Homo sapiens: one gene and its partners. The protein of the gene in region 2 interacts with the protein of the main gene of each other region in a pairwise test. Each region holds a gene or a part of one and is shown on either strand. Other genes may lie near its edges.

What was found.
Region 1: the proteins of COIL (region 2) and TFCP2 interact in a two-hybrid assay, tested with the Homo sapiens proteins (one large-scale study listed by BioGRID and IntAct).
Region 3: the proteins of COIL (region 2) and KALRN interact in a two-hybrid assay, tested with the Homo sapiens proteins (one large-scale study listed by BioGRID and IntAct).
Region 4: the proteins of COIL (region 2) and CYB5R2 interact in a two-hybrid assay, tested with the Homo sapiens proteins (one large-scale study listed by BioGRID and IntAct).
Region 5: the proteins of COIL (region 2) and ZBTB25 interact in a two-hybrid assay, tested with the Homo sapiens proteins (one large-scale study listed by BioGRID and IntAct).
Region 6: the proteins of COIL (region 2) and KAZN interact in a two-hybrid assay, tested with the Homo sapiens proteins (one large-scale study listed by BioGRID and IntAct).
Region 7: the proteins of COIL (region 2) and PREPL interact in a two-hybrid assay, tested with the Homo sapiens proteins (one large-scale study listed by BioGRID and IntAct).

The regions. Positions count from the first base shown.
Region 1 is NC_000012.12:51,107,113-51,110,635, forward strand, and holds part of TFCP2 (alpha-globin transcription factor CP2), read right to left. Parts: intron 2,162-3,523; coding exon 2,009-2,161; intron 235-2,008; coding exon 124-234; intron 1-123.
Region 2 is NC_000017.11:56,947,548-56,951,070, forward strand, and holds part of COIL (coilin), read right to left. Parts: intron 3,450-3,523; coding exon 2,342-3,449; intron 2,221-2,341; coding exon 2,134-2,220; intron 1,888-2,133; coding exon 1,840-1,887; intron 1-1,839. UniProt on the Homo sapiens protein: Component of nuclear coiled bodies, also known as Cajal bodies or CBs, which are involved in the modification and assembly of nucleoplasmic snRNPs.
Region 3 is NC_000003.12:124,724,588-124,726,839, reverse strand, and holds the end of KALRN (kalirin), read right to left. Parts: 3' UTR 515-2,252; downstream 1-514. UniProt on the Homo sapiens protein: Promotes the exchange of GDP by GTP. Activates specific Rho GTPase family members, thereby inducing various signaling mechanisms that regulate neuronal shape, growth, and plasticity, through their effects on the actin cytoskeleton.
Region 4 is NC_000011.10:7,664,600-7,667,571, forward strand, and holds the end of CYB5R2 (NADH-cytochrome b5 reductase 2), read right to left. Parts: intron 2,706-2,972; exon of another isoform or gene 2,013-2,705; coding exon of another isoform or gene 1,956-2,012; intron 1,952-1,955; coding exon 1,852-1,951; coding exon of another isoform or gene 1,788-1,851; intron 1,341-1,787; coding exon of another isoform or gene 1,241-1,340; exon of another isoform or gene 1,228-1,240; intron 948-1,227; coding exon 775-947; 3' UTR 505-774; downstream 1-504. UniProt on the Homo sapiens protein: NADH-cytochrome b5 reductases are involved in desaturation and elongation of fatty acids, cholesterol biosynthesis, drug metabolism, and, in erythrocyte, methemoglobin reduction.
Region 5 is NC_000014.9:64,497,321-64,500,843, forward strand, and holds part of ZBTB25 (zinc finger and BTB domain-containing protein 25), read right to left. Parts: intron 3,134-3,523; exon of another isoform or gene 2,121-3,133; intron 673-2,120; exon of another isoform or gene 613-672; intron 1-612. UniProt on the Homo sapiens protein: May be involved in transcriptional regulation.
Region 6 is NC_000001.11:15,102,177-15,105,699, reverse strand, and holds part of KAZN (kazrin), read right to left. Parts: intron 2,342-3,523; coding exon 2,240-2,341; intron 1,678-2,239; coding exon 1,511-1,677; intron 1-1,510. UniProt on the Homo sapiens protein: Component of the cornified envelope of keratinocytes. May be involved in the interplay between adherens junctions and desmosomes. The function in the nucleus is not known.
Region 7 is NC_000002.12:44,317,088-44,320,304, forward strand, and holds the end of PREPL (prolyl endopeptidase-like), read right to left. Parts: coding exon of another isoform or gene 3,112-3,217; 3' UTR 1,109-3,111; coding exon of another isoform or gene 1,031-1,108; 3' UTR 520-1,030; downstream 1-519. Other genes in the region: amino acid transporter heavy chain SLC3A1, read left to right, coding at 3,112-3,217. UniProt on the Homo sapiens protein: Serine peptidase whose precise substrate specificity remains unclear. Does not cleave peptides after a arginine or lysine residue. Regulates trans-Golgi network morphology and sorting by regulating the membrane binding of the AP-1 complex.

The DNA of each region.
Region 1 (3,523 bases), on a different chromosome or scaffold from region 2:
GAATCCATGTGATACTGTGTCCCTCAAGGCTTAGGAGAAGTAAATTCTGACCAGTTTGGAAGTGATGAATTTTTAAGATTAAAAATTATGAACTGAAATTGTCACCAAAAGAAATCTTTTTACCTCTGTGAGTATGGTTGTCTCATAGGAAGGCTGATATTTCTCCTTTTCATGAGGTGTTCGTTTCTCCATTTTTTCCCTATCCGTTTTTTGCTTTCTGTCTGCACCTTTGGGCTGAAATGAGAAATATTTTGTTTTAAATTCAGGTACTCACCTTTTAACCCAAAATATTGCTTCCAAAAACTTAAATATTCATGTATGAAACAAAATTGTATGTGCAGTGATGTAAAGGCAAGACACATCACTTTAAGTTTGAAAATAGGAAATTTAAATGTTTATATTCGATGGAGTTGAAAAGAATCAGATCTATAGCTACTGACATGGAAAGATCTCTAAAGCACATAGTTCACTGAAAAAAATCAAGTCTCAAAACATTTCTTTCTTTTTTTTTTGAGACGGAGTCTCATCCTGTCACACAAGCTGGAATGCGGTGGCGAGATCTTGGCTCACTGCAACCTCCGCCTCCAGGGTTCAAATTATTCTCCTGCCTCAGCCTCCCCAGTAGCTGGGACTACAGGCGTCCGCCACCACACCCAGCTAATTTTTTATCTTTAGTAGAGACGGGGTTTCACCATTTTGGTCAGGCTGGTCTTAAACTCCTGACCTTGTGATCCGCCCACCTCGGCCTCCCAAAGTGCTGGGATTACAGGCATGAGCCACCGTGCCTAGCCTCAAAACATTTCAAATAGTATAATCCCATTTATGTGTCAAAGAAAATATGTATATAGCTATGTATGTGTGTGTATAAAAGCATAGGAAGGAACTAGAAGAGCTGGGCGCAGTGGCTCATGCCTGTAATCCCAGCACTTTGGGAGGCCGAGGCAGGCGGATTGCCTGAGGTCAGGAGTTCGAGACCAGCCTGGCCAACATGGCGAAACCCTGTCTCTACTAAAAATACAAAAAATTAGCTGGGCATGGTGGTGTGTGCCTGTAGTCCTAGGTGCTGGGGAGGCTGAGGCGTGAGAACAGCTTGAACCCAGGAGACGGAGGTTGCAGTGAGCTGGCACTGCACCACTGCATTCCAGCCTGGGTGACAGAGTGAAACTCCGACTCAAAAAAAAAAAAGAAGAGGGAAGTAGAAGAACACATACGAAATTATGAAATTATGACAGTGGTTTCCTCTGGGAAGAGGTTGTGGAGGGGGTCAGTGTAAGAGTAGTAAAGGGAGAATTTCAGTGTTGCTATGAATACCTCTGTATTATTCAATCTCTTACAATGAGAACATATTTATTCATGTGATAAAAATAAACAGGACCCTGGCTGGGGCACAGTGGCTTACACCTGTAATCCCAGTACTTTGGGAGGCCAAGGAGGGCAGATAACTTAAGCCCGGGAGTTCAAGGCCAGCCTGGGCAACATGGCAAGACCCCCTCTCTATAAAAAATACAAAAATTAGCCCGGTGTGGTGGCACATGCCTGTAGTCCCACTTACTGGGGAAGCTGAGGCAGGAAGATCAATTGAGCCCAGGAGGTTAAACTATGATTGCGTCACTGCACTCCAGCCTGGGTGACAAAATGAAACCCAGTCTCAAAAATAAATAAATAAATAAATAAGACCAAATAAGAAAAGATCAAGTATGAAAATAACCATAACTAGTCAATTTTTGTGAGCTTTACAAGAGCTTGTAACTTCAATAGGCTTTAAGAGCTTTCAATGAGAATCCATGTTCTTGCCTCTAGCCCTCTTTTCCAAGTTCCTATTATCCTACGACCATGTAAATTTCTTTACCAGGCATCTTGGTAATTATTTCAATGACTCTAGCTTAGACTTTTTGCGTGTGTGTGAGTTTTCAAAAAAAGACAAGTTGATTTTCTGACTTGGTAACTAATGTTAAAATAGAATGATAAGGTAAAAGAATCCAAGGGCCAGCACATTGCCCAGGAATACCTTGAAAACTTTGATCTGGCAGCTGGCCGAGTGTAAGTGCTCAGTATATTCCCCGTTTTCATTCTCCTTGAAGGTATCTATTTGTACTCGGAATGGCACCCCCTTTTCTCCACCATGTTTCCTCATAGTGAACTCTGTGCTAATACAGTGCACCTGAAAAGAATACAACAGCAAGGCTTCAGTACCGCTAGCTAGCCAAACCAGTTGGCAGTATTTTTTTAGCAACTATTAACAGCAAAACCTTTACCAGGCATTATGAATACCTACAAAAAACACTTTTCCTCTTTTTGATCTTGAAGAACTTACAATCTGATAGAGGAAATAGAAAAATGCTTTACAAATGCAAACAAAATAAAAGTACAGATCTAATGCTAACAAAAGCTACTGTGAGGAACTAAATTCATTAACTGCTTCAAAGAACACAGAGCTAGCAAAAGAGAAATGATTTATGTTAGTTAAAGTTTCCTCAATTTTAAGGAAGATTGTAGAAAGAGGAGTCACTACCCAGTCTGGGAACATAGTAAATATGAAAGTTCACAGCAATAGTGGAGAAAAAGGTTTGCTTGGCTACTGCATAAAGTCTAAGATTGGTGAATTTTTTTTTTTTTTTTTTTTGAGACTAAGTTTTGCTCTTGTCACCCAGGCTGGAATGCAATGGCACAATCTCGGCTCACCGCAACCTCCACCTCCCCGGTTCAAGCAATTCTCCTGCCTCAGCCTCCCAAATAGCTGGGATTACAGGCACACACCACCACGCCCTGCTAATTTTTGCATTTTTAGTAGAGACAGGTTTTCGCCATGTTGGCCAGGCTGGTCTCGAACTCCTGACCTCAGGTGATCTGCCTGCCTCGGCCTCCCAAAGTGCTGGGATTACAGGTGTGAGCCACGGCACCCAGCCTGGTGAATCTTAATAGAAGAACCTTGTCTGACTGACTACTCCACAAGATTATAGCTGAAAGTCTTAAAATCATATATATAAAGTGTTTACTTAACATAGTGACTATTTCATGTGAAGTATTAATAAACTAGTGGTTACTATAATTACTACAAATAAGGATTTTCAAGGACTCTACCCAAAGAACATAATCAGATACGCAAATCAAATTTTAAGTATAAATATGTTCAAAATAACATCACAGATAATAGTAAAAAATCAGGCCAATCAAGGCCGGGCATGGTGGCTCACACCTATAATCCCAGCACTTTGGGAGGCCAAGGTGGGTGGGTCACCTGAGGTCAGGAGTTCAAGACCAGCCTGGCTAGCATGGCGAAATCCCACCTCTACCAAAAATACAAAAATTAGCCAGGCATGGTGACATGCGCCTCTAGTCCCAGCTACTGGTGAGGCTGAGGCAAGAGAATCGCTTGAACTGGGAGGCAGAGGTTGTAGTGAGCCGAGATTGCACCACTCCACTCCAGATTGGGAGACAAAGCCTAGACACTGTCCCCCCCCAAAAAAATTATGCCAATCTAACTGCCAAATAATTGTTATGTAAATTATGGTACAACCAAGAA
Region 2 (3,523 bases):
GCAACCCCCACCTACTGCGTTCAAGTGATTCTTGTGCCTCAGTCTCCTGAGTAGCTGGGGCTACAGGTGCACGCCACCATGCCAGGCTCATTTTTATATTTTTAGTAGAGATGGGGTTTTGCCATGTTGGCCAGGCTGGTCTCGAACTCCTGACCTCAAGTGATTCACCTACCTTGGCCTCCCAAAGTGCTGGGATTACAGGCATGAGCCACTGTGCCTGGCCATTAATAAGCAATTTTTAAAAATCAGTATCATCTAGAATTACAATTTATAGAGGTTGTGGGATGTATCAATACAATATTCATTTCCATTTCCTCATATATCACACAATTAAATGTTTTCTATGGTAGGGTGACAAAACACCCTGGTTTGTTCAAGACAGGTCTGTACATCTTTCCAGCATAACTATTAATAGCATCCCTTTGACTCACAAGTATCCTGATTCAGGTGATAAATTACATGATCACCTCATCCATAGGAGATAGTAAGTGCCTAAGAAGATAAAAAACAAAACACCAACGACCTAGAACTAACCCACCAGATCCCTTCATTAACTGATTCTTCCAGCCTGCTTTTGAGGAAAGATTTTTTTTTTTTTTTTTTTTGAGATGGAGTCTCGCTCTGTTACCCAGGCTGGAGTGCAGTGGTGTGATCTCAGCTAACTGCAAGCTCTGCCTCCCGGGTTCACGCCATTCTCCTGCCTCAGCCTCCTGAGTAGCTGGGACTACAGGCACCCGCCACCATGCCCCGCTAATTTTTTTTTTTGTATTTTTACTAGAGACGGGGTTTCACTGTGTTAGCCAGGATGGTCTCAATCTCCTGATCTCGTGATCCACCCACCTTGGCCTCCCAAAGTGCTGGGATTACAGGTGGGAGCCACCAAGCCCAGCCTTGAGGAAAGGTTTCTATAAAGATTTTAAGTCTTCCAAGGCATCAATCCAGATTAAATCAAATTCCCTTGTATTTTATCTATGTTACTATATTAACACTACCAATTATTACCTTAAAAAATGGTCTTACATTCCATATAGTACATCAAAAAAAAGAAAGAATGCACTTTAACAAGATTTTCAACAAAATGTTGGTGGGTGAAAAAGAAACATGTAATTCTGTGATCCCTCTGACTGAGTCAAGCTTTTACTGAACTATGAAAAACCTCACATGCCAATATAAAGACTCATACAGATATTAAGTAAGTAAATTCCACGGATAATATTTATGAATTACCTGTGGTTACCTGATAATGCAGAAGAAATCATACTAGATCATAACAACCAGAAGTAATTCACAAATATGTAAAATAGATTCCCATGATGAAAATAATCAAATCTTCTTGCTGAGAACTATTTATTATTTTCTTTCAAAGTTTAGAATCATGAAGGAATGAATACCCAAATAAGTTGGTCTAAACTAATTAGAAAAAAGTAACTAAAAAAATTAAACTGGCTGGGCATAGTGGCTCACACCTGTAATCCCAACACTTTGGGAAGCCAAGATGGGGGGATTGCTTGAGCCAAGGAGTTTGAGACCAACCTGGGCAACATAGCAAGATCCTGTCGCTATTTAAAAACAAAAAATTAATATATTTTTTTTAAAAAAGTAAAAATTAAGCTCATCATTCTCCTACTCTATTCTTCCCAAGTATAAGGCAAATAACACAGGGAGACTTCCCAGTGATACTATTAAAGAGTTGACATTTCGATTAATGTTTTCATTTTCTACTTTCTGGCATTTTTATTTAGTAAAAAAACAAATCTGTATTATCCATACAAGTAGTATTAAATATGACTTTAGTTTTAATAATACACTGACAACTTACTTTTAAATAAACATCCTTACCTTGTAGTCAGAGACATCAGGAGAGTAACTGGATGTTAGCTCCAAAAGCTAAAAAAGAAGAAAAAACCCACAAATACATAAGCCCTCTTATCCTCTCCCATTCCCACAGCTCCTCCATCATGCCATGTTGGCGTGTCCACCCCGACCAGTCTGGGAGCCCTACCAGGAACCCGTAACAACACTGGGGTTCCAGTGGGAAGGGCTTTTACAAACACATTTAACCTGATTTTCTAAGTAAGTTTATTTGGAAGGGGAATGAACCTTTTTTGCTGTGACTGTTCTTTTGAAATATACCTTAAATGCAATCTTTTCTCCAACTTGAGGGGCAGCTGCTAACAGTGGTAACAGACTATAGTCCTTCTTGGGTGTCTCTACTGGATTCTGAAAAACAGTGTTAGTCATGTGACATCATCACTGGTGAGAAAATGTGAATCCATGACATGAACTCCACACACATTCTAAGGGGAAAGGGAGGAGATAACTTACAAAAAATAATACTTACCTGGATAATAGTAGATGAATTTTTTACCACGTCATTTAATTGCTGTTGCCTCTGGTTGTCAGTGCTTCTATTTACAACACAGGAAACAGGATGCCCTCGTCCTCGACCTCTCCCCCGCATGCCCCGTCCCTTAGCTCCCTTCCAAGAAAAAAGGTTCTCTTCTCTACCCCATCCTCTTCCTAAACTAGCAGGGAGAGACACACTGGGAGAAGCACCAGGAGCCTGTCCACCACCATTTGAGCCAGAACGCCTCCATCCAGCAGCACCTGCAGTCTGTGATGACAGCCCTGGGCCTGGACGACCTCTTCCTGCAAAAAGGCCTACTGTCTTTAAGAAACCCGCAGCACACTCCGGGGTGCTCGATGACATCAAGCATTGGTCGTCTGACTCTGCACTAGAGTCTGAACTGGAAGATGTTGTTCCAGAGGTCTTGCCCTTGCTGGGGGTAAGGCTAAAGCCAAGTTTTATAGCCAGTTTGTCTGCAGTTGTATTTTTGGTAGAGGGTTCTTCCTTTGATAACTCAGTTGGTAATTTCTCTGAGGAATTTCTGGCCTCCAAAGTGACTTTGCTGGGACCATCACTGATAGATTCATCACAAGATTCAGACTCCGAGGAGGAACTGGGACTCTCTTTTGAGCAAACGCTTACACTACCTTTCCTTTTGGCTTTAACAAGGCTGTTTCTAGCAGAACCTTTTGGAGAACTACATCTCTGATTGGCCCAGTCTTTCACTGCCTGTACTTTCGGAGACTTGGGATTCTTAGCCTTTTTTTTATATTCACATTTCTCCTTTTTCTTTGGTGATTTTCTTTTGGCCTCTTCGTTATCATCACCCACTGTGCCACAGGTTGCTTTATTTTTTCTCTTGTTTTTTTTGCTGACAGTCTGATCTGTGACAGCTTTTGGTTCCAGATCCAAGACCTTCTCATTATTGTTATTGTTCTCTCGACTCTTCCAATGCTTCTTTGAATATTTGCAATCTGGTTCAGTTTCTTCACCCTCCTCTAACTGAAATGCCCGCTTCTTTGCTTTTCTAAGAGATAAATTAATGTCACCATTACTGATGACTACAGAATTCTCAGCAACTCCTCTCTCTTCTAATTTAACTCTGTCAAAAGAACAAGAGAGAAAGCTAGAGTGAGCAATTTATAAACACATCTCCAGGACATAGTTATATACTGA
Region 3 (2,252 bases), on a different chromosome or scaffold from region 2:
AGGGTCTGGTCTCACTTTGTTGCCCAGGCTAGAGTGAGGTAGCATAATCACAGCTCACTGTAGCTTCTACCTCCCGGGTTCAGATGATGCTTCCACCTCAGCCTCCCAAGTAGATGGGATCACAGGCATGCACCAACACACTCAGTTAATATTTTTAAAACAATTTTTAATATGTGGGGGGTTGGGGGGACGTGGGTGTCTCCTTATTTTGTCCAGGCTGGTGTCAAACTCCTGGGCTCAAGAGATCCTTCCACTTTGGCCTTTCAAAGTGTTAGGATTTACAGGTGCTAGCCACCACACCTGGCTCTGAGGTTTCCTTGGCATTTTTGGGTAAATGCCTTAGAATACTCTAGGGCACAAAATTGTTGCTTTCTCTCTAAAATCCTGGGCCAAACATGTTGTAATAATCCTGTGATATTTTTACCTTTTCTAAGTCTTTCATATATTTGGAGAAAGAAAAAAATTACTCTTTTCTTTGAACAAAGGTTTAATTAGGAAAAAAGAGACAACCATATAGTATCTTTAGTATAGTATATTTATAGGAATGCATAACATGTGAGATGTACATTTTGAAGTTTCATCCATAACTTATAACATTTACTGTAGCAGTAACAAGACAGCAGGTCATCACTTTACAACATTACACATGAGTGATTTTGACTTACAAATAAAATATTTACAACCTACCTTTACAAAACGACATTGTGTGCATACAAAATGAACAACAGCAGAAAAATTTAAAAATAATAAAATAACCAAAAACCCAGAAGATACACTTAAGGCAGACCAGCAAGACACTGAAATAATTAAGGCTGTGGAATTCTTCTGCACCTTGAAAATATAGAGCTATTTATCAATACTGTGGAGTGATTTTAAATCAATTGTTACAAGCCTGATGGAAGTATGTACTTATATGTATATGTGCGATGGTCCCTATGGGGAAACCTGTCCACTTATGAATAAGGCCCTTTGTCTGAATGGCCAGTGAAGCCCACTCCAAATTCTCAAAAGACTTGAGGGGGGCAGGGGTCACTCAAAACCAAGAGATGCCAATACAGTTTGCAAATCAACTATTAATAGTTCAAATGTAAAGATAGTTATAAGTCCAGATAAACAGAATAAACTAAATGATGGCCCCTTTATGTTTCACACTTTGTTAGTTTGGCTTTGTGGATGTCAAAAGACAGCAAATTAATTCCAGAATGAGTAGAATTCGTCTCCACAAATTAGCCCTAATGGTTTTGAATGGCCCTAAATGGTTTTCCATTAGAAACATTGACCCACCTGGGCTGTCTGCAAATGGATAGATTTCTGCATATGAGCAATAACATATACATACATATTATACACTATATACATGTACAGATGTACATATATCCATATTTTCCAACAGTTTGCACTTTGATCACTACTGTTCTCTGAACAGGATCTCATTATGAAGAGTATGTTTAGTTTTTTTCAGTCTTCATATTTGTTCTAACTACTAGTTTTACTCACCTTCCCCATAGAGTAGGCTGAAGTTTGGCAGAAACAGAAGTAAAAGCACCAGGGTCAGAAAAATCAAACATAGAGTTGACAGATATGGCTTAAGTTAGTAAGAGAAGATGTATGTCTTGTTAACTTCAGATTCGTAGCCACAGTCTTTGAGGTCATAGTAACAGTCTCTGTAATACTCCAGAACATGGATTCAGTTGTTGATGGAAGTCAGGTATTGATGGAAACTCATATGATGGCCATCCCTGGGCCAACAAATTAGCTTGGTTAAACTAAGCCTCAGGAGTTGGCATTCCAAGAATTGTTATTTGCATTTCTTCTACCATGCTTCCTTTTCTCAGCTAACCTCACTATCTGAAATAGCAGTTATCTAACTAATGCGTTATCTTGATCATTTGAATAAAAACTAAATCTGAACACATTTTAGAATCTCACAGCAAAGGGGCACATTTCTCACAGAAAAATGCAATAGCCTGTGCGTATTAATTTCAGGCTTATCATAATGTCCCTCAAAGACGAAAAGTTGTCTTAGAGTGATTGCTTTTTCCTCTCCTCTAACTTCTTCATATTTATTGAAGATGAGGAAGAAATGCCTTTCATAGAAAATATGTTTTATGATAATCTGTATTCTACTACTTCTGCTTAAATTTTTTATGTGAGTAAATTTCCTATTAAAAACATTTAGTGCTATAAACAAATTTCAGCCCTTTTTAACCCTTTAGAATTAATGAAACAACTGAGAGCCTTAATATTTTTAG
Region 4 (2,972 bases), on a different chromosome or scaffold from region 2:
AGGTGAGAGAATGGGGTCGGAGTTGGGGGCCCAGGGAAAGAAAAATCTGATAAAGTCGGCAGGAGCAAACCAAGAAGGGCCTTGGGAGCCAGGCCCTGGAGTGTGTCCTGGAGAGATGGGGGTGGCCAGAGTGGGGTCTCCCTTGAAAGCAGTGAAGGATCCCCAAGGAGACAGTGAACAGGGGGATGGGTGAGGTTGGCTGTCCCTCCCCCCCACCCCGACAGACCCTCGTTTGGGTTTCATGATACAAAGGATTTAAGGCAGTTTCTGGAACCTGACTTTGAAAGTTGAGAAGTTTCTGTGTGTAACCACTCCTACCATGACCCCTAGTGCCATGGAGAGATTCTTGAGAGTTGATGTGACCCCACTTGGAGTTTTTTAGGAACTGCCCCGACACTTGCCAGTTGTGACCCCCATGGGCATGCAGAAGCCAACTCACAGGCCAGGCCACGGCCTCCTGACTGCCTAGCACGTCCCCCACAGAGCCACACTTCATGGGCTGTCTGCTTTGTACTTGAGTTTATTTCACAAAACCACGGAGAAAGATACTGAAATGGAGCTCTTTCCAGCCTCCAAGCAAGGAGGCCCCAGCAGCCAGTCTCCAGCCCCTTGAGCCCTTTTTGTTAGGCCCACACCCAAAAGAGGAGAACCAGTGTGTGCGCGAAGGTACATGGCAAGGCACTTTTGAAAACATCCCAGTTTACCGTGGTGAAATTGAACTTACTCTGAAACAGATGAAAAGGGACATGCAAAATTGCTGAGCACGTGGAGGTGTTAGTAGGTGAAAATCATGTCCTGGGTATAACCCAGCTTCTCCAGGTTAGGGTGAGCCGCCGTCTGGATTAGTGGTGGCGGGCCACACACCAGGATGAGCGTGGACTTCGCTGGAGGAGGAAGGTGCTCCTTGATCATGTCGGCAGTAACGAAGCCTGAGCTGTACTTCCAGCCTGAAATGAAGGAGATGCAGGAGCAAGCTGAGCGATGCCAGGTGGAGTTCCTGATCCCAGGCCGCCTGCACACCCACCCTCAGCCAGGGAGGAGGTGACAAGCTGCTCTACAAAGGCTTAGAAGTCTGTACTACTGCTCCCTGCAAAAAGCCTCAGAACTAGTAAACAGCCCTCTGCAGCAATCACCCCAGGTCCCAGGCTCACTGCAGGGACCCTGAAGCCCTGCTGCTGTCTGTCAGCTGTCAGCATTGACGAGGAAGGAGAACACAACGAGGTATACCGAGGTGTGTGAATCAGTACAGCCAGCTGGAGTTGTCCGGCAGGGTGTGGCCTGGTGTTAGTGGAACTGCGCAGAATTGCTCAGTAGGGTAGCGCCCTCTGCCGACCAGGGACCTGTATGACAAGCAGGTACAGCCGGGAGCAGTGTGAGAGGCGCGCCTGTGGGGTGCTCTGTGCACAGTGGTTGCTGGGATGCTGTCTGGGCTGCAGCAGCTGTCTGGGGGCTCAGCATGTCCAGGTGAGGTGGGCGGTAAGGGGTGTGGTGGCCGTAAGCAGAAGGGTGAGTGGTGAAGGGGTCAGTGCCCATATTAGATGTGTATGTGATGGCTGTGTGGAATGGGTGGGTGTTCACAGTGGACAGGGGCAGTGTCCCTTTTGATGTTCAGTGCAGCGTGAGGTGCTGCTGATGTATTAGACACCTGCTCTCGATTGCCCTTAAAAGCAGGCCATCCCAAATCCTTTCTCCCTCAATTTCTCACATTTCCCATCTGGAGCCAGAGCCCCAGGCTTAACCCCCACATCTGGTCCTACAAAACTAAAACAAAACAAAGAGACAGAGACCAGTCCTCAAAGTGGTCAAGGGTTGGTGCTGACCCATGGTGAGTGAGGGCAATGGATGTCGTACCAATGGGAGGCCTGTCCAGGGTGTACCACAGGTTGAACTGGTCTGGGTGAGTCCTGGCAATTTCTTCAAGCTCTTTTCTGACCAAGATATCCTCCTCTGTCTAGAAAAGAAGCAACACTGAAAAAGCCCCTCCAGGGCCATCCTCTTGTTCCCTGGACTGACTACACCGGTCAGCATACTCCTGGCCAAAGCTGCCACCACTCCAGCTGGAGTGCTCGCTGCCAACTCCCACGGCAAACAAGAGTTCTGCTGCTGCTCCTGAAGCTCAAACCCTTTGTTTTGTGGATGAAGTTCCTCCATGTGGATGAAGAACCTCCATGGGATGTAGGTTCCCATGGAGCTGCAGTGACCGCCTCCAACTAGAAGGACCTTAGCCAAGCGCTGGCCAGGATGGCTTCACTCGGAGCTCCAGCCCTGCCTCCTACATCTACACTGAGCTCTAGCACAGCAAACCTAACTGGAACAAGCTCAGTGCAGGCCCAGGATCTTCTGGAAGAAATGTAATGGGCTCAGAAAGTCCTGTGATAGAACAGCACTGGATATGTGAAGGAGAGGAAAACAGTCTGGAGCCCCATTTGGGGGAAAGGGAACCAAAGCCAAAAATAACCTGTCACAGCCTCAAAGATAACTGCACAGAAGACCTGGATCTTAAAACTCCTCATGATTCTCATCCCAGTCATTCCACTTCTGGGATTCTGTTTTAGAAAATAATCTAAAAGTAATCAAGCGTAGGCACAATTATTCATCACCATATTATTTAGAACTGAAAACAGCCTGAATGTGGAAGTTAGTAAATTATAGTGCAACTTGATAAAAACTATGATGAAAATATTTATAAAGCATCTTAAAGAGAAGAAAATGCCTGTTGTGGTAATGCTGAGTGAAAAAAAAAAAGCATATATAAATTACAAATATATAACATATATAGAAAAAAGATTTAAAAAGTAAGTAAATATTTATATTCTGTATTTTCTGAAGTGTCCACTGAGGACATCTGTGATTTTACACTTAGCAAAAATACAGCAGTACATCTTAAGGAAAAAAGGAATGCTTAGTGCTTAGGGCTGGCTGAGGAGACACAAAAGAGTTAAATACATGCAAAAAGCAGGCCTGGACTCAGC
Region 5 (3,523 bases), on a different chromosome or scaffold from region 2:
TTATTAGCTAGACTTTTTGTATAGCCTTTGCTCATCATTCTTTGACTGTCTATTTTATTTTCTCTAGTATGTGAAATAGCTAAAGTTTCCCATGAATACAGAAAGAGCTTAGAAGTTACATTTGAGAATTTCTGGTGAGAATTTTAAGATGTGAGAGAAATTATGGAAAAATAAAGTATTTTATTATACTTATAAATACCAGAATCAAAATATGAGTGCTACATTTTTAAAAGTTTTATCTGTTATCAAAGTGATACATTATCATAATAGTTTTAGCATTGATATTTAAGAGATTACAAAAACCTTCTTTACCTTCTAGATTGTAGTAACTCTGGATTACTTCAAATTAAGATGGAACAACTTTATACTAGTATCTATGTTTGTTTAAAGCTGGCTTGATATTCAATACATATCTTTGATTCTTATGTATTTAGAAAAATCTACTGTACTAGACTGGACTCTCAGATCTATGGTAGCCAGCCGGATATCCTGGACTACACAGCTCTTCATTCTCTCAGGCTGTAAGAATCCTTAATAAAAAAGGAACAAAAAGAGCAAGACGACTGTTTCTGTAGGAAAACAGTCTTAGGTATTTTCTCTGTCAATGCTTACCACTGAGACTTTATGATGAATTTTCATTCAGACAAGGAGACAGGAAAGTTGGCAGAGGAATATGTACATCTTTTTTGAGCTACTTACTCATGGCTATAAATACAAAGGCAAAAGCAAAATATTTCAAGTGCCATATGATAAAAGACTTTATATAGCGACTAACTTTTTAATGGAACTTTCACATGACTGTAGAGGTGTGACATTTAATTATGTAGAGAATGAAACAATGTTTGTAGAAATCATTTTATCCTGAAACAGAGGTTCTTATTGCTGACTATACTGTAAAACCTTCTATGCAGAGCTGTATTGATGTCTGAGTCCCAACCCAGGCTTAGCCCAAACAGAATTGAATTGCTAGGGGTGAGGCACAGATTCTTTTTTTTTTTTTTTTGAGACAGAGTCTCGCTCTGTCGCCCAGGCTGCAGGCTGGAGTGCAATGGCGCGATCTCGGCTCAATGCAACCTCCGCCTCCTGGGTTCAAGTGCTTCTCCCGGACTCAGCCTCCTGAGTAGCTGGGATTACAGGTGCCCATCACGCCTGGCTAATTTTTATATTTTTAGTAGAGATGGGGTTTCGCCACGTTGGCCAGGCTGGTCTTGAACTCCTGACCTCAGGCGATCCGCCTGCCTTGGCCTCCCAAAGTGCTGGGATTACAGGCGTAGGCCACTGTTCCCGGCCAGATTGTTTATTTGTTTATTTATTTTTATTTTTATTTTTTTGAGACAGAGTCTCACTCTGTTGCCCAGGCTGGAGTGCAGTGGCACGATCTCGGCTCACTGCAAGCTCCGCCTCCCGGGTTCGCGCCATTCTCCTGCCTCAGCCTCCCGAGTAGCTGGGACTACAGGCGCCCACCACCACACCCAGCTAATTTTTTTGTATTTTTAGTCGAGACGGGGTTTCACTGTGTTAGCCAGGATGGTCTCGATTTCCTGACCTCATGATCCACCCGCCTCGGCCTCCCAAAGTGCTGTGATTACAGGCGTGAGCCACCGCGCCCAGCCCAGATTCTTTTTTTAAAAAGCTTCCCAGGTGATTCTAACGTGACTGCTCAGTTAAGAACCACTGCCTCAGAAGAACACGGGACCAAGGAAACCCAAGAAATTATTTCACACTCTACAATTACATTGATATTTAAGAGACAATAAAAACTTTCTTTACTTTCTAGATTGTATAACTCTGGATTAGTTCAAACTAAGTAAGATAGAACAACTTTATACTAGTCTCTATAAATAAACAATTCCGTAAGAGTGTTCAAAGTATGGAAATTATGTTGACTACATTAAATGAACAAATATAAACAACTGTAATTCTAATTGTAACCTTAAAATATTGGCCAGATTAAGAAACAAAAGTGCTCCATGGCCAGGCATGGTGGCTCGCTCCCAGCACTTTGGGAGGCCGAGGCAGGTGGATTACCTGAGGTCGGGAGTTCGAGACCAGCCTGACCAACATGAAGAAACCCCGTCTCTACTAAAAATACAAAATTAGCCAGGTGTGGTGGCACATACCTATAATCCCGGCTACTCGGGAGGCTGAGGCGGGAGAATCGCTTGAACCCAGGAGGCAGAGGTTGTGGTGAGCTGAGATTGTGTCATTGCACTCCAGTCTGGGCAACAAGAGTGAAACTCCATCTCAAAAAAAAAAAGAAAAAGAAAAAAAAGAATCAAAAGTGCTCCTAAACTGGCAGGATGGGCATGGGTGGGGGGGTGGAGGAACACACTATTTTCAGACTTCTTTTCAAATAGTATTTAGGAAAAAGAAATATTTACTCTCTTACTCCATTACACCTAGATTGGATTTCATAACACCTAAAAATGATACAGAAATTCTAAATCTGAAAATACTGTTTGAGGTAAAATCTGCTGTAATTCCAGACATCTGCTTATTAAGATCTACTGAGAATGTTAGCAAAGAGGGTATGGAGGGGGTAGATGAAACAGGAAGAGTAGTTATGCTCTAGAAACCTTTAATGGAACTGGGAAACGTTAGTTTGGGGCCTCCTGCCTGTTGGCAGACATAGCCAACCTCCAAGCACCTCTAATTCCCATCTAACCAACATTACATTGTAGGATGCCTGATAAAGCCAAGCACACAAGAATACTAACAACAGTAAGCACAAATTGTTAATAGACCTTTAAAAAAAATCAGAACCCGGAGAAAGAAAGGAAAAGATTCCTCTCAGTCCATTAAAGACAAACCAAATTTCTAAAAGAAAAAATAAGGTACTCAAAGGACAGGAGAAAGATGGAAAATTATAATGCTAGTACAGACCTAGAATACAGTACAGGCAAGAGTAACTAAAACTTCTGGATACAAGTAAACCAATACTTCTTTCGCAATGGAAGTATACTCCCATGAACACACTACTCAAGTGGGCTAATAAAAACCTTTGCTTAAAGTGCTTGGAGATTTCAGAAAAAATAAAACATCCATGCATGACTGATTTGTAACCAGAGAAGAAATGAATTAGAAAAATATAAAAAATAACTGAACACTCTAAGCACTTTTTCTCCCAATAAAGCAAAAAAAAAAAAAAAAAAAAAAGAGAGAGAGAGAGAAAGAAAATTCCTGCTAGCAAAGGGAAAGCAGAACGGTAAATAAATGCCTATAATCCCAGCACTTTAGGAGGCCGAGGAGGGTGGATCACCTGAGGTCAGAGTTCAAGACCAGCCTGGCCAATATGGTGAAACCGTCTCTACTAAAAATACAAAAATTAGTTGGGCGTGGTGGCAGACGTCTGTAATCCCAGCTACTTGGGAGGCTGAGGCAGAAGAATTGCCAATAAGGGGGAAAAACTCAAATGTCCATGGATAGTCAAATGGATAAAGAAAACATGGACCAGGCACAGTGGCTCACACCTATAATCCCAGCACTTTGGGAGGCCAAGGTGGGCGGATCACTTGAGGTCAGG
Region 6 (3,523 bases), on a different chromosome or scaffold from region 2:
AGTGGCCCAGCTGCTCCCTAAGGATCCATGTGGTTTAGGGGTTTAGGACTCAGGCCTGAGTTAGAGAGCCCCAAGGTCAAATCTGGGCTCTGTCAACAAAACCAACAAACCTTTAGATAGGCTGATTAAAAAAAAAAACAAAACTCAAACTCAGATCACTAAAACCAGGAGTAAGTGAATGAGTGAGAGAATATGACTACCAACTTTATATATAAGAGGCACTATAAGATAAAAATTATATGATCAACTGCATGCCACCAGATTAGCTAACCTAGATGAAATGGACAAATTCCTAGAAAGATATAAGCTACTGAAACTGCCTCAAGAAGAAATAGAAAATCTGAACAGACCTCTAACAAGTGAAGAGATTGAATTAGAAGTCAAAAAGCTTCCCAGAAAGAAAAGCCTAAGACCAGATGGCTTCGCTGGTGAATTCTACCAAATGTCTAAAGAATAACAAACACCAATCCTTCCAAGCTTTTCCAAAACCCAGAAGAGGAGAGAATACTTCCCAATTCATGCTATGAGGGCTATATTACCCTGATACCAAAATCAGACAAAAACATCACAAGGAGGGAAAACTATAGACCAATATCCCTTATAAATATAGATGCAGATTTTTTCAACAAAGTACTAACAAATTTAATCCAGCAATATATAAAAAGGATTATACACTGTGACCAAGTGAGATTTATCCTGGGAATGCAAGGTTGGTTTGACATATGAAATTCAATCAATCAATATAATACACCATATTGATAGAATAAAGGACAAATCTAGGATTTGCCACTTACTAGCTGTGTATCTTGGGCACATAGCTTGGTACCTTTGAAGAAGTTTCTCCATCTATAAAGGAGGGATAGTGCTACTGATCTCTTGACATTGCCAGGAGGATGAAATTAGATAGTTCACACAGGAAGTATTCAATAAATGGTCATCTAACCCTAAGTGCATGATTTTAAGAAGAGAATCCACTGGGAGGGGGACTGGTTTATGCCCAGGTGTTCATTCTCTGGTCACTTTTCAGATGGGGATACTAGGATAGGTGGGCTGATGTGGTCTGCTTACCTGGTCCATAAGCATCATTAATATGCTCATTCCTGACTCCAAGCCTTTGTCCCCACAGTTGCCCCACCTGGACCAACCAACTCAACCTATTAGGCCAATGCAAGTCCTCCCAGCTACACTCCACCTGCACGTGGCCTTTCCTTACACATGCACTGCTTGCTATCTCTTCTCTAAACACCTGGGTGTTTTTTGATCTAATATACACTTAATTCAAGACCTGACTGCTCCTCTACGTCTTTCTAGTCTATGACCTTCAGGCTAAAGCACTTTGCTTCTCTGAGCCTTAGTTTCCTGATCTGTAAAAGGTGACCACCATGGTGCAAAGAACGAGTGGGAGGCAGTAAGTGATGGGCCAGGATGGGGAGCTGGACCATCTGCTTCCAAAGCCCTGAGCTGTACTGTACCCAGCAGCCCACATGACTGGATCCCAGCCCGTGCTCACTTGGCTGGGTGGAAGACGGCGCTCATCTCCTCTGCCAGGTGTCTCCGGAGGATGTGCTTCCCACTGGGGATGCCCAGGGCAGTGGCCATGGCCTCGGCATTGAATGTGGGCTCCAGCACCAGCACAGCACCATGGACGCCGCTGTTGGTCAGGTTGTCTGCGTACTCCTGGGGGCAAAGGCAGGGGACTTGTTAGCCTGCAGGGGCCATGCTGCTGGCCTAAGGGGGCCCCAGTTCCACGTGGGGCTCTGTCCCCAACAGCAAGGGCTTGACCCCCTGGGGACCAGTTAATTTGACGGTGAAGAGGAACCCCTCCCCAATTTTTTAGAGCCACGAGGTCAGGGACCTCCTGTTACTGAGATGGTCCCTGACCCTAGCAGGAAATCATCAATATTTGTTAAATGAATCTCAACCCCACACTTGCTTAGGAGAGTGGGGCTGGCTCAGCCTCTCTACCCCATGTGAGCAAAGCATCATGACATGGGGCTCCTATTTGGAAGGTAAGCAGTTCCCTCCTCCTGAATAACAGGAGGCAGGTAATTCTTGCTGGGCCTGAGTTAAGATGCTCCAGCCCACACAAAGGGGATATTAATTTGTGTGGGATTTGCCCATTGATTTGCATGAGATCTGCATATTGATTTGCATGTGATTTGCATATTGATTTGCATATAGATTTGCATGGGGTTTGTGTATGCCCGAGAGTCACCCCGACCTCCGCTATCACCCTCACCTTCAGGTCGATGTCTCGAACCCACTTGAGCACCCGCTGGTTGGTCCACACCACGGGGTCAATGTTCTGCGTCTCGCAGCGGGCCCGGCGCTCCTGGAGGGCCTTGTGGGGAGACAGTGGGTCATTCGGAGGGACAAGGGGACACGCAGAGGCCACGTGTGGAGTGGGGGTGCCCCGCATCTCTTTTTCCCCCCGAGACAGAGTCTCTCTCTGCTGCCCAGGCATGAGTGCAGTGGTGCTATCTGTGCTCACTGCAACCTCCGCCTCCCAGGTTCAAGCAATTCTCCTGCCTCAGCTTCCCGAGCAGCTGGGATTACAGGCACCTGCCACCACACCGGGCTGCTTTCTTTTTGTATTTTTAGTAGAGATGGGGTTTCACCATGTTGGCCAGGCTGGTCTCGAACTCCTGACCTTGTTTGTGATCCACCCACCCTGGCCTCCCAGAGTGCTGGGATTACAGGCGTGAGCCACCAGGCCTGGCCCCTGCACCTCTTTTTACATGTAACTGCTGTGATCTCCCACACGTGCCTCCTTGGCAGACTGGGGACTGGGGCCAGGGTCTGTGTCCTTGTCACTCCCTGTCCTCGGCGTGGCATGGGGAAGGCACTGCTGCTGTCCTCGCTCCACTAACAGGGAGCTCTGACTGCCCAGAGCCACACAGTGGCACGTCTTGGAGTTGGAATGAAAACCCATGTTTGGCTGATTCCAGGTCCTCTCTCACCATCTCGCCACCGTATCGCAGGCCTCCCTGGGTCCCACAGGGACTGACCCCAGGGTTCACAGTAGGCACACAGTGGATGCTTTTCAGTGGGTGGTTGAGAAGGGGGACAAAAGGCTGGATGGCCCCCTCTTCTGTCCCTCTTCTGACCCTGAATTGTTGGGTTCTGACATCACTCTAAGAAAAGTCAGCTACCTGGACTCAGCCCCACAGTGCCCAGCAGCTCAGGCCCCTGGTGACCTCTGCAGCAACCCCCCACCACCTCCCACCTCAAAGCCAGCACCCCACCCAACAGGACTCTCAGCAACTCTGCTGCCGTGGATCAGTCCTCTGGGCCTTCACCACACTGTTGCCTCTGCTGGGTTACTTTTTCTCTCATGTCTTCTACTGATCCCTGGGGTTCCTCCTTCGGGTCTCAATTTAGTCGTTGCTATCTCTGAGGAGCCATCCCTGAGCCCCCTGAAGACTTCTCTGGGTTTTCTTTTTTTCTTTTTTTTTAAAATAGCAAACACTTAAAAATTTTTATTTTAATTTTTGTGGGTATACATAGTAGGTATATCTTCTCT
Region 7 (3,217 bases), on a different chromosome or scaffold from region 2:
TGCACAGGAAAAAGAGTAACTCTAGATTTGAGCTGTTCAGTAGCCATTAACCACTGTGACTATTACATTAAATAGAATTAAACATTTAGTTCCTGCTGGGTATGGTGGCTCACGCCTATAATCCCAGCACTTTGGGAGGCCAAGACTGGAGGATCACTTGATCCTAGGAGTTTGAGACCAGCCTAGGCAACATAGTAAGACCCTATCTATCTCTTAAGAAAAAAATTAGCTGGGCATAGTGGCACACACCTGTAGTCCCAACTACTCAGGAGGCTGAGGTGGGAGGATCACTTGAGCCCAGGATGTTGAGGCTGCAGTGAGCCATGATCATGCCACTGCACTCCAGCTTGGGCAACAGAGGGAGATTGTGTCAAAAAAAAAAAAAAAATTCAGTTCCCATGTCATAGCAACACTTCAAGTGCTCATTAGCTGCCATATTGGATGGCTCTGATATAGAACATTTCCAGCATTACAGAAAGTTCTATTGGCCAGCATTGTTCTAGACATTGAGAAACATTATTTTCAAGTGGTCATAATTTTAATGGTAAAATTAGGACATAAAAATAATTTTCAAAGAATTATTTTCAAAGAACACTAGACATAAAATATAACAATTTTCAAATTTTCAAAGAATACTAGAAGAAAAAAATTATACAGTCAATCCAACAAAAAGCTTAATAGAAAAAAACCCTAAACAATAGTATAACTACAAATAAAATAGGGCTTCCGAATTATGTCTAAATAATACAATAATTACAAATATGAATGGGTTAAATTAGCCTATTAAAAGATAAAACCACTCAGATAACAAAAACAGACATAAGAAACACTAACATAAAACACAAAGAATTAAAATGAAGATATAGCAAGCAAATAATAGAAAGCTTGCAACCCAGCTATAGCTATAAACACAAAAAATGAAGTTATCTTTTGACCTAATAATTCCATTCCTAATACTTAGAAATATTTGCACATGTGCACAATAATACTTAAAGGATCTCAACACTGTTTTTTTTTTTTTTTGAGACAGTCTTGCTCCGTCACCCATGCTCGAGTGCAGTGGCGTGATCTCGGCACACTGCAGCCTCTGCTTCCTGGGTTCAAGTGATTCTCCTGCTGCAGCCTCCCAAGTAGCTGGGATTACAGGTGCACGTCATTATGCCCGGGTAATTTCTGTATTTTTTAGTAGAGATGGTGTTTCACCATGTTGGCCAGGCTGGTCTTGAACTCCTGACCTCTGGTGATCTGTCTGCCTTGCCTCCCAAAGTGCTAGGATTACGGGCCTGAGCCACCTTGCCTGGCCTGCAAAATTTGTTTTTAATAGAAGACACAAGAAATGATTTAAATATTTTATCAACAGAAAACCAGTTCTATCAACTATGGGCCCAGTATGCAGCTTTTAAAAATGACAGTTCTATATACATTGATATGAGACCATTTCAAACAGGTATTCAATAAAGTATAGAATGGTAACATATCACCAACTGTGTAAAGAAAAATATATAAACATATGAAATGATACATTCTGTGCCTATGCAAACATATGATACATTAAAAACAAAAGAACATATAGTGCCTGTCTCTGAGGGGAACTGTGAAGCTATGGAAAGGTGTTGAAGAAAACCTTTTTATAGTATGTATTCTTGTAATTGAATAAAAAATAAAATTACAAAAATCAGGCTTGGAAGTATTTAATAGCAGACAAAATATAGTTCAATATGAAAAGCATTATATGAGACAAAGGCAATTTTCAAAAATTGATAAAACATTCCACCAAAAATCATGACTACGCATCTAACAGCTTCAAAATATAGAAAATACTCAAATGCAAAATCAACAAATCTGCAATTACAGAAAAAGACTTCAACATACTTTTAGAAAGTAGTAACTCAAGTAGACAATAATAGCTAACACTTACCGGGCACTTCTTATGTGAGTGGCACTGAAACATGTGCTTTCATGCATTACCTAAGGCTAGAGAAAATGTTAATAACTTAGACAAGTCATACATGTATCATAAATATCTTTGTACCTGACAAACAGAATAAACATCTTTTTAAACACCATTAGATAATTATTTAAAGACCACATATTGGGAACCTACCCCTAAAGAACAATAACAACCACAATAACAACTATCACCCCAGTAAACATGGCTGGCAAGAATACAATTAAATGAACATTATCACTGATTTGGCAACAGCTCTTATGAAGAATAATTTGGCATTATGTATCAAGTGCCCATACTCTTTGACAAAGTAACTGTCTTTCTGATAATCTATCTTAAGTAATACAAAAATGGGGGGAGGGGAATAAAAATACAAAATATTAGAAACACTATCGTCAAAATGAAAGGGCATGGCTGAGTATGGTACAACCGTTCAACAGAATATTGTCATTAAAAACATTTATGGAGGCTATATTATATAGTCAATAACAGAAAATGCTTGAAAGGTTAGAAGTACATCATCAAATTATGTTTTATATAGCTGTAAAATAAACCCAAATCATCTTTAATGAACACATACTATTATGGTAAAAAAAAGTCTACAATTTCTAACTTTCACCTTAGGCAGCTTTTTATTTTGCATCCTTTTTTTCAACTTTGTCTTCTATTAGCTGTGCAAGAAATACATGTCTGCTAAAGTTACACGATCTTCGCACAACAGCAACCTACACATTAGTCTACAAAGGGGAACAAACCCAAATTCCTCAGAAGTCTGAGTCCACTGTTGCCTTCTTTCTGGCCATCTGGCAGTTACAATATAGCACAGAATGACTATGCAAGTTAAATATTCATCTTAGACATGGACATTTGCTTTGGGACTCCTAAAGTGGAGTCAAATTTGATCTCTACAGAAACTCTACAATGTAGCAGAGCACTGTGCGTACTTATTGACTCCCAGACAAGCCGAAACCCCGAATTTGTCATTTCTATCAGTTTTTATATAAATTGTTCTTACCTACTTATTGATGCTTACAATTTGGCAATTATAAGGGGCAAAATTGGAGCAAGTGTTTTGGGTAAATAACTCCTTACAATATATTAAAAATACTTACAAACAATTCTTAGAATCAAACACTTACGTAAATACTTTTTTAAAAAAATAGGTCCAAAAGACTCAGCCCAGATCGGCTTTGAAGTTATATCAAGATTTAAGTCTACTTCATGCCAATGAGCTACTCCTCAACAGGGGCTGGTTTTGCCATTTGAGGA